2 separate regions of the Homo sapiens genome follow, and region 2 is linked to region 1. A link means that fine-mapping ties the variant in region 1 to the expression of a gene that starts in the linked region. Tissue or cell type: whole blood. Region 1 holds a variant in brackets; the other region holds the start of a gene. All regions are shown on one strand. Distances are between the middles of the regions.

Region 1 (4,158 bases):
CACACACTTGAACAACCCCACAGTGAAAAACCAGGGTGTTTTCACACTCACACTCAAGCATGATCCCACTTACACACACAGGTTTTCCCCACTCACACGTGGTAATCCGGTCTCACAGAGACACACACAAGAGCATCCATTGTCATTTGTGCTCTGGCCAAGGTCCCCAAGACCCTCCTCCTGGCCACACACACACACAGGGGTGCACAGGTGAACACGCCACCAACGCCCACAGCTGCAAAGATTCCAGGGCGCACAGACACGGTGGGAGGAGAGTGAGAGGAGGGGAAGCAGATGGGGCCGGGGGACTCAGGAGGGAACGGCCCCGCCCTGACCACTGCCCGTGTCCACCCCTGCAGGGATCCCAGGTGCCGTCTACATTGCCTGTGCAGGGCCTGGCTAGAGATCCCTTCCCAGTCCTGGAGAAAACGTAGAAATCCTGGAGAACCTGCATTGCCTGGAGGGAGGGAAGCCTCCTTCCTTCCTGGAGGGGCTGGGAGCGTAGCAGTGTGAGGTGCAGCAAGAAGGACCTAGGACAGACCTCCACTTTTAGCTGGAGGCCACACAATCCCCACAGCTGGGGAAGGAAGGGGAAAGAAGGGAAATGGACTCAGAGAGAGGCAAAGAGCAGCCCAACGTCACACAGCTAGGCAGGCCCTTCCAATCAACCAAAGCAACAGACAGCCAGCGCAAGGGTGTGTGTTTCTGGCACCTTCCTTGGTGATGCCAGGAAATGTTGCTCATTATCTTTATGCACAGGCAACGCCCTGGCACCCCCACTCCCCTTCCCACCGAACTCCCCAGGGGACACCTGCCGGGCACACCCAGTCCCAGGGATAAAAGCCTCTGTCCTACAGAACTCCCGATCTCAAAGAGTAGCACCTGAGAGATGAAGAAAGGGAGGGGGACCCTCTCTCCATGTAGGCATCTCTTCTAATCTTGGGGAGGCCTGGAATTGGGGCCTATCTTAATTTGGCAAACTCCTACTCTACCCTGAAAGCCCTAGCTCCTACAGCCCCTCCACCAGAAACCCTTCCCTGCTACCCATCTTGGCCACCCCCAGCCATGGGTGCCTTCCTCTTGCCCAGCCCTGTAAGCGTGGTGTCTGTGCCCATGACTGTCTTTGCTGGATGGGAGTTTCTAGAGGGACATCTTCGGCTGAGTTTTTGCAGGGCACAGGGCTGACTTTGAGAATTCAGTTTACAGAGGGGTGAGCTTGCTGCAGATCCCAAGTCTGCACACTTTTGCCTGTGGGGGTGCTGCCCTGCATACACTTCTCCTTCCTCTCCGTTTCACTCCTGGTCCTCCTGTGACTCAGTTTCCCCATATATATATATATTTTTTGAGACGGAGTCTGGCTCTGTTGCCCAGGCTGGAGCGCAATGGTGTTATCTCAGCTGATTGCAACCTCTGCTTCTCAGGTTCAAGCCATTCTCCTGCCTCAGCCTCCCAAGCAGCTGGGACTACAGATGCCTGTCACCATGCCTGGCTAATTTTTGTATTTTGTCTTTTGAGACAGAGTCTCACTCTGTCACACAGGTTGGAGTGCAGCAGTGCGATCTCAGCTCACTGCAACCTCTGGCTCCCGAGTTCAAGCGATTCTCCTGTCTCAGCCTCCCGAGTAACTGGGACTACAGGTGTGCGCCACCATGCCTGGCTTTTTTTTTTTTTCAGACGGAGTCTTGCTCTGTTGCCCAAGCTGGAGGCTGGAGTGCAGTGGCATGATCACAGCTCACTGCAACCTCCGCCTCCCAGGTTCAAGCAATTTTCCTGCCTCAGCCTCCC[G/A]AGTAGGTAGGATTACAGCCATAAGCCACCATGCCTGGTTAATTTTTTTGTATTTTTATTAGAAACGAGGTTCCACCATGTTGGCCAGACTGGTCTAAAACTCCTGACCTCAAGTGATCCGCTCGCTTCGGCCTCCCAAAGTGCTGGGATTACAGGCGTGAGCCACCGCGCCTGGCCAAACTTTTATATTTTTTAGTAGAGACAGGGTTTCACCATGTTGGCCAGGCTGGTCTCAAACTCCTCACTTCAGGTGATCCGCCCGCCTCTGCCTCCCAAAGTGCTGGAATTATAGGCATGAACCACTGTGCCCAGCCTCCATCTGTTTTTTTTTTTAAATTAAAAAAAATTTTTTTTAATAGAGACAAAGTCTCGCCATGTTACCCAGGCTGGTCTCGAACTCCTGGCCTCAAGCGATCCTCCCTTCTTTGCCTCCCAAAGTGCTGTGATTACAGGTGTGAGCCACCATGCCTGGCCTCCCATCTTCAATAGGGCACGAAGGGTGCCACCCAGCACTGTAGGAAAGCCAGAGAGGACCTGGAAGAGCTTGACCAAGTGGCTCTTGTGCTCTTGCCACTGCCCATGGGTAGAGGATGCCAGGCCGTGAAGCCAGAACATGCCAGTGGGGAAGTGCCTGTGTGTGTGAACGCCGCGGCATACATGTGTTCGCGCGCCTGTGCCTCTGTTTTCCCCAAGTGCTGATAGCTCGAGGGCTCACAGCTGGGCCTGTTCCTAGGGCAGCCTCCTGGTCTCCTGTTCCTAGATCGCCCCTAGGAGTTCCCTGAGGTTCCACTGGTGGAGAAACTGAGGCCCCATGAGGGGCAAGACTTGGCCAGGGGTCTGGGCCTCTCAAGGCAAGACTCAGTGATTCTGCAAAACACAAAACAAATTCCACAGCCCACAAAAATGTGCCCCCTCCCTCAGAGGGCCCCAGGGCCTGGGCCCACCCCATGGGAGGGATGAGGCAGCCAGGACAGCCTCGAACTGGCGACACACATCTGGGGGCAAACCAGGAACATCTGGCAAGCACAGCTGGTTCCGATACTGCGTCTGCGGGGGCCAGAGGCCAACCTAGGGGTGGCTTCATGTGTCAGGGGGTGCAGACACAGACACCCCCAGCCGCCCCTTCCAGGTCTGCCGGAGAAAGAGGTCCAGCCTCTCCTCTTCTTCCCCCAGCACAGAAGCTGAGTGCTGCCCAACTGCTAGAACTATCGCTGGCTTCCTGCTACCCTGGGCATCAAGTCCCAGCACATGAGCTTGTCTTGAGGGACTCTGGGTCTGTCTTTGCCAAAGTGAAGCTGAGGGATGGATGGTCAGGGATAGTGGTTTCTGGGGAGGAGTATGGTGGCTCCTTCATGATAATAATAGTGGTAAAATAATAATAATAATAATAATAACTGGGCCCGGCACGGTGGCTCACACCTGTAATCCCAGCACTTAGGAGGCCGAGGCGGGTGGATCACGAGGTCAGGAGATCGAGACCATCTTGGATAACATGGTGAAACCCTGTCTCTACTAAAAATACAAAAAAAATTGGCTGGGCGTGGTATTGGGCGCCTGTAGTCCCAGCTACTTGGGAGGCTGAGGCAGGAGAATGGCGTGAACCCAAGAGGCGGAGCTTGCAGTGGGCCAAGATCGCGCCACTGTACTCCAGCCTGGGCAACAGAGCGAACTCTGTCTCAAAAAAATAAATAAATAAAATAATAATAATAATAACTGGGCCGGGTGCGGTGGCTCACAGCTGTAATCCCAGCACTTTGGGAGGCCAAGGCAGGTGGATCACTTTAGGCCAGGAGTTCGAGACCAGCCTGGCTAACATGGTGAAACTCCATCTCTACTGAAAATACAAAAAAAAAAAACAAAAAACAAATTAGCCGGGTGTGGTGGTGCACTCCACCAGTCCCAGCTACTCAGGAGGATCAGGCAGGAGAATCACTTGAACCAAGGACATGGAGGTTGCAGTGAGCCAAGATCGCGCCAGTGCACTCCAGCCTAGGCGACAGGGCGAGACTCCGTCTCTAATAATAATAGTAATAATAACTGAAACTAACACTCATGAACAACACTATTAGTGCCATTCTAAGCACTTTACATGTAGTAACTTGTATCAAGGTATGGACTATTTTATCCCCATTTGGTAGGTGGAAAACTGAGGTCCAGAGAAGTGAAGTAACTTGCTCAGATTCAAACAACCTAAGTGGCTGAGCTGGGATTTGAACACAGGTGGTCAGCAAACTCCTACTCATTCCTCAAAGACTCACTTCCAACACTCCTCCCTCCATATTCTTTTTTCTTTTATTATCCAATCAATGGCTGCAAAACCTCTATTTTTTTCTTTTTTTCAAGACAAAAGTCTCGCTGTGGAGTGCAGTTGCA
Region 2 (4,158 bases), 28 kb after region 1:
GTGGCACTCGTCACGGTGGGTCTTGGGACGCCTCGGGCATTGGGGCCTCGCGGTCGACCCCGCGTCCCTTCCTAATGGCTCCTCTCCTCCCATCCCTCCCTCTTCACCTCCACACCTCCCTCTGTCTCCGCCTGTGTCTCTCTCTGTCTCTCTCAGCCTGGCTCTCTTGGTCTCTTCCTCTCTGCGTCTCACTCTCTGCCTCCTACCCTGCGTGGCGGCTTCTCCCCCAGCTCCACGGCCGCTCTCGGGAGCAGCGCTACACCAAGCTAGCCGACTGGCAGTACATCGAGGAGTGCGTGCAGGCCGCCAGCCCCATGCCCCTGTTCGGTGGGTGTTCCGGGAAGCCACCTCCCTCTCCCCTACCACCCTTGGTCACTCACACCTCTGGGCTGTTCGCCTTCCCACTTGGGACCCCCTCGTACCACCCTGATGGGAGCCACTGGGTCAGCCAAAACTCCTGAAGGGCTGGTGAGCAGAACTCCAGGGTCCCACCTGCCCATGTCTCCCTGAGACCCCAGCCTCTGTCTCCTCAGGAAATGGGGACATCTTGTCATTTGAGGATGCCAACCGCGCCATGCAGACTGGTGTCACCGGGATCATGATTGCCCGGTAAGTGCCCAGGGATGTTAGAGATCCAGCTTCATGCACAGCAGCAGTGCCCTGAACCCAACACGCCGTCACCCACCCCTGTTCTGTGGTGGGCTGTTGGTCCCAAGATGGGAGGAGCAGAGAGCGATGTCAGGAGTTGCAGCTGCGTTGCGGCAGAGGGGACTGGAAATTGCTGCTGCTGTGGGATCTGATGATTGTGGGTTGAAAGTCCTGGGCTTTGGCCAGGTGTGTGGCTCACGCCTGTAATCCCAGCACTTTGGGAGGCCAAGGCACGCCGATCATTTGAGGTCGGAGGTTCAAGACTAGCCTGACCAACATGGTGAAACATCTCTATTAAAAATACAAAAATTAGCCAGGTGTAGTGGTACACGCCTGTAATCCCAACTACTAGGGAGGCTGAGGCAGGACAATTGCCTGAACCTGGGAGACGGAGGTTGAACAGTGAGCCGAGATCTTACCACTGCACCCCAGCCTGGGCGACAGAGCCAGACTCCGTCTCAGAAAAAACAAAAGAAAGTCCTGTGCTTTGAAGGTTGTGTGCATGCAGCTGGGAGGCTTACTAGGCTTGTAGGTTTTGTGGTCTGGGCTCCGGCTCAGGCCAGGCCATGGAAGCAGAGGCCACACGATCCCAGGCAGGCTGGTGGCTGGGCCCACTGATCGTCACCCGTCCCACAGTGGCGCCCTGCTCAAGCCGTGGCTCTTCACGGAGATCAAGGAGCAGCGGCACTGGGACATCTCGTCGTCCGAGCGCCTGGACATCCTGCGGGACTTCACCAACTACGGCCTGGAGCACTGGGGCTCGGACACGCAGGGCGTGGAGAAGACCCGGCGCTTTCTGCTCGAGTGGCTGTCCTTCCTGTGCCGGTGGGCACCGGGGCTGGCTGGGGTGGGCGGCGCGTGGGCCGCGGCTGGTTAGAGCTGACTCAAGCCTGTCCTGCCCGCCCACCCGCCGCAGGTACGTGCCCGTGGGGCTGCTGGAGCGGCTCCCACAGAGGATCAACGAGCGGCCGCCCTACTACCTGGGCCGCGACTACCTGGAGACGCTGATGGCCAGCCAGAAGGCAGCCGACTGGATCCGCATCAGGTGCCTGGGTGGGCTGGAGTTGGGGAGCTGCAGTCGGGGGCCCGGGGTCACGGAGGGTACTTTGCAGGTCCTGGGCCTGACCTCGCTTTCCACCTGCTCTCCCACAGCGAGATGCTCCTTGGGCCAGTGCCCCCCAGCTTCGCCTTCTTGCCGAAGCACAAGGCCAACGCGTACAAGTAGCCTCAGGCTTTCCCAGGGGCACCCTGGGGCGAGGAGAGTACAATAAATTTTATTCTTTTAAAATCCAGGCCTTTCTGTGACCCTGAAGCAGCCCCTCCTCGGCCCCCACCTTCCCCAAACCTCTTAGCTGCCTCCATGGGCCCTGCCCCAAGCTGGGTGCTGCTGGTGCCCAGAGAGGCCTTGACCCCCAAGAAGGTAGCGGGTTGAGGACCCGGGGGGCCTCAGCCTGTGTGGGTGTGGATCAGGGCAGCCTGCCTGGAGGAGGCGGCCTCAAAGCTGTTAGGGGGGTGTTGCTGGAAGAGGCAAAGGCCTGGCCCAGAATCCTCCCTCCCATGGTGATGACCATGTCTGCCAACGTCTGCCCCTGCTTGCCCCCAACACCCAGAACCCCAACCAGTGGGCGCGCTGCAGGCTGGAACCCGCTGCCCCGAGTAACCAGGCAAACAGAACCCCACCAGGTTCTCAGCCTGTTCTCCGGTTGGGCCACTTGCACTCCCACTGCCGCCCTCCTGGCCTGTCTGGACCGGGCCCCCCGCTGCCCCATGCAGCACCCCAAACCGTTCTGTGCCCCTGCAGCTCCCCAGGAAGGTTTCAGCCCGCAGAGTCTGGAGGGGGCTGAGGTGCTGGGCAACCAGCCTGCTCCCACCTGTGCCGAGCCTCCTCCCGCTATGGGTACGATCGGGTGGGTGGGAGCACCTGCTGGAGAGGGTTCAGGGGCCCACCCGCCTAAGGGCCCTACCCACCTGGGCACCTTTGTCCACAGGCTCCTTGAACCTGTATCATCCCCCAGACCCAGAGAAAGAGGTGTTTCCAGCCCCACCAGCAGGTACCGGCCTCCCCTGAGCCCTTGACGAGGCTGGGAGTGGGTTTGAGTGTGCAGGCCCATCTTGCCCCTGCCCCGTCCCTAAGTGGGAGCCTGAAGGCATGGCCTCTGCTCCCCATGCTTCACACAGGTCCCCCAGATGAGCCCCAAAGACAAGCTCTGTGTCATCCATCACCCAGCCAGGGCCCCAAAGCAATATCTATGTCGTCCCCCAAAGGGGCCCCCCAATGGCAAGGTTCTTGTGGCATCTCCCAAACAGGCCCCCAGGCTTGGGCTGGGCCCCTCAGGCAGCAGCTGCTCTCAGGGCACCCGCCTGCCGCCCACAGGTTTCCAGATGGCCCCATGCGGGTGCTTCTTCGACCCCCGCATCTATCGGATCGAGTGGACCACCCCCGACCTGGGCCAGTCAGCCCTGTATAAGCTGGCAGCAAGCAGCGGGGGGCCAGCGGGGGTCCCCTCCGCCCCAGGCAGCTACCTCCTGGAGCCTCAGCCCTACCTCAAGGCCCCGGGGCTGCCTCCATACCCCCACTACCAGCAGGCACCCGGGGGGCCCCAGTTTCTCTTGCCCTACTTCCCGCCTGAGGGCCCCGGGCCAGAGGCTCTGGGTTTTGTGGGGGACGCAGGGCCCGCCGCCTTCGTGGAGCTGCCCCTACCGCCCCTAGAGGAAGGCCCGGCCCCGCTGCCACCCCCACCCCCCAAGGAGAACAAGCCGCCCCCTGTACTCATCACGCTGCCTGCAGAGCCCACACTGCCCCCAGACGCCTACAGCCACCTCCAGGGTCACCTCGGCCACTTCCCTGGGCCCGAACCCCTGGCCTTCCCCGTCAAGGAGCTGCAGGGCAGTGGGGCCCGACCTGGGGTGCCCCTGTACCCACCGGGCCTCAGCGAGCTCAAGGTGGCCGAGGTCAAGGAGGGGGCCCTGCTGGGAGCAGGCAAGGCCAAGGCCCCCAAGACGGCCAGAGCTTTGGCACTGCCTGACAAGGTTCTGCTGGAGGACGCCATGAAGCTCTTCGACTGCCTGCCAGGCGCCTCTGAGCCTGAGGGTACCCTGTGCGAGGTCCCTGGGCCGGCCCTGCCTGACAGCAGTGGTGGGAACTCAGCCGATGACATCCGCTCGCTGTGCCTGCCCGAGGAGCTGCTGTCCTTTGACTACAGCGTGCCTGAGATCCTGGACACCGTGTCCAACGTTGACTACTTCTTCAACTTCAAGGCGCTCGACGAGGAGCAGCCGCCCCACCCGGGGCCCCCTGCCACCAACACCCCGGCCCCCATTCTGTCTGGCAAGAGAAAGGCCTCGACGGCCAAGAAGGGAAAGCCGGGAAGGAAGGCCAGGCAGCCGGCAGGCCCAGCCAGCGCCACTCCCCCGGGGCCCAGGGAGGACCTGGGAGCCACCCCGCATTAAAGCACATTTGACCTTTCAGCTCCATGTCCACGTGGGGGCCTTGGGGATGGGGAGGGGGCT

Evidence for each region. PIP is the estimated chance that this variant, and not a neighbour inherited with it, causes the effect.
Region 2: PRR22 starts here. The variant in region 1 is fine-mapped to the expression of PRR22 in whole blood (INTERVAL, PIP above 0.99).

What each region holds. Positions count from the first base shown.
Region 1 is chr19:5,811,194-5,815,351 of GRCh38, reverse strand. The region is part of intron 1 of NRTN (neurturin); the gene reads right to left. Among named protein-coding and RNA genes, the nearest start is that of NRTN, 8.2 kb to the right of the region's middle. The variant G/A (reference allele first, on the strand shown) is at 1,786.
Region 2 is chr19:5,782,918-5,787,075 of GRCh38, reverse strand. PRR22 (proline rich 22) reads left to right here and starts at 2,330. Exons shown (of 3, transcript NM_001134316.2): 1 at 2,330-2,545; 2 at 2,637-2,699; 3 at 3,023-4,116. The coding sequence starts at 2,416. The coding sequence ends at 4,098. It overlaps DUS3L (dihydrouridine synthase 3 like), which reads left to right. Exons shown (of 13, transcript NM_020175.3): 8 at 1-15; 9 at 231-327; 10 at 534-609; 11 at 1,285-1,473; 12 at 1,565-1,693; 13 at 1,801-1,936. The coding sequence ends at 1,873.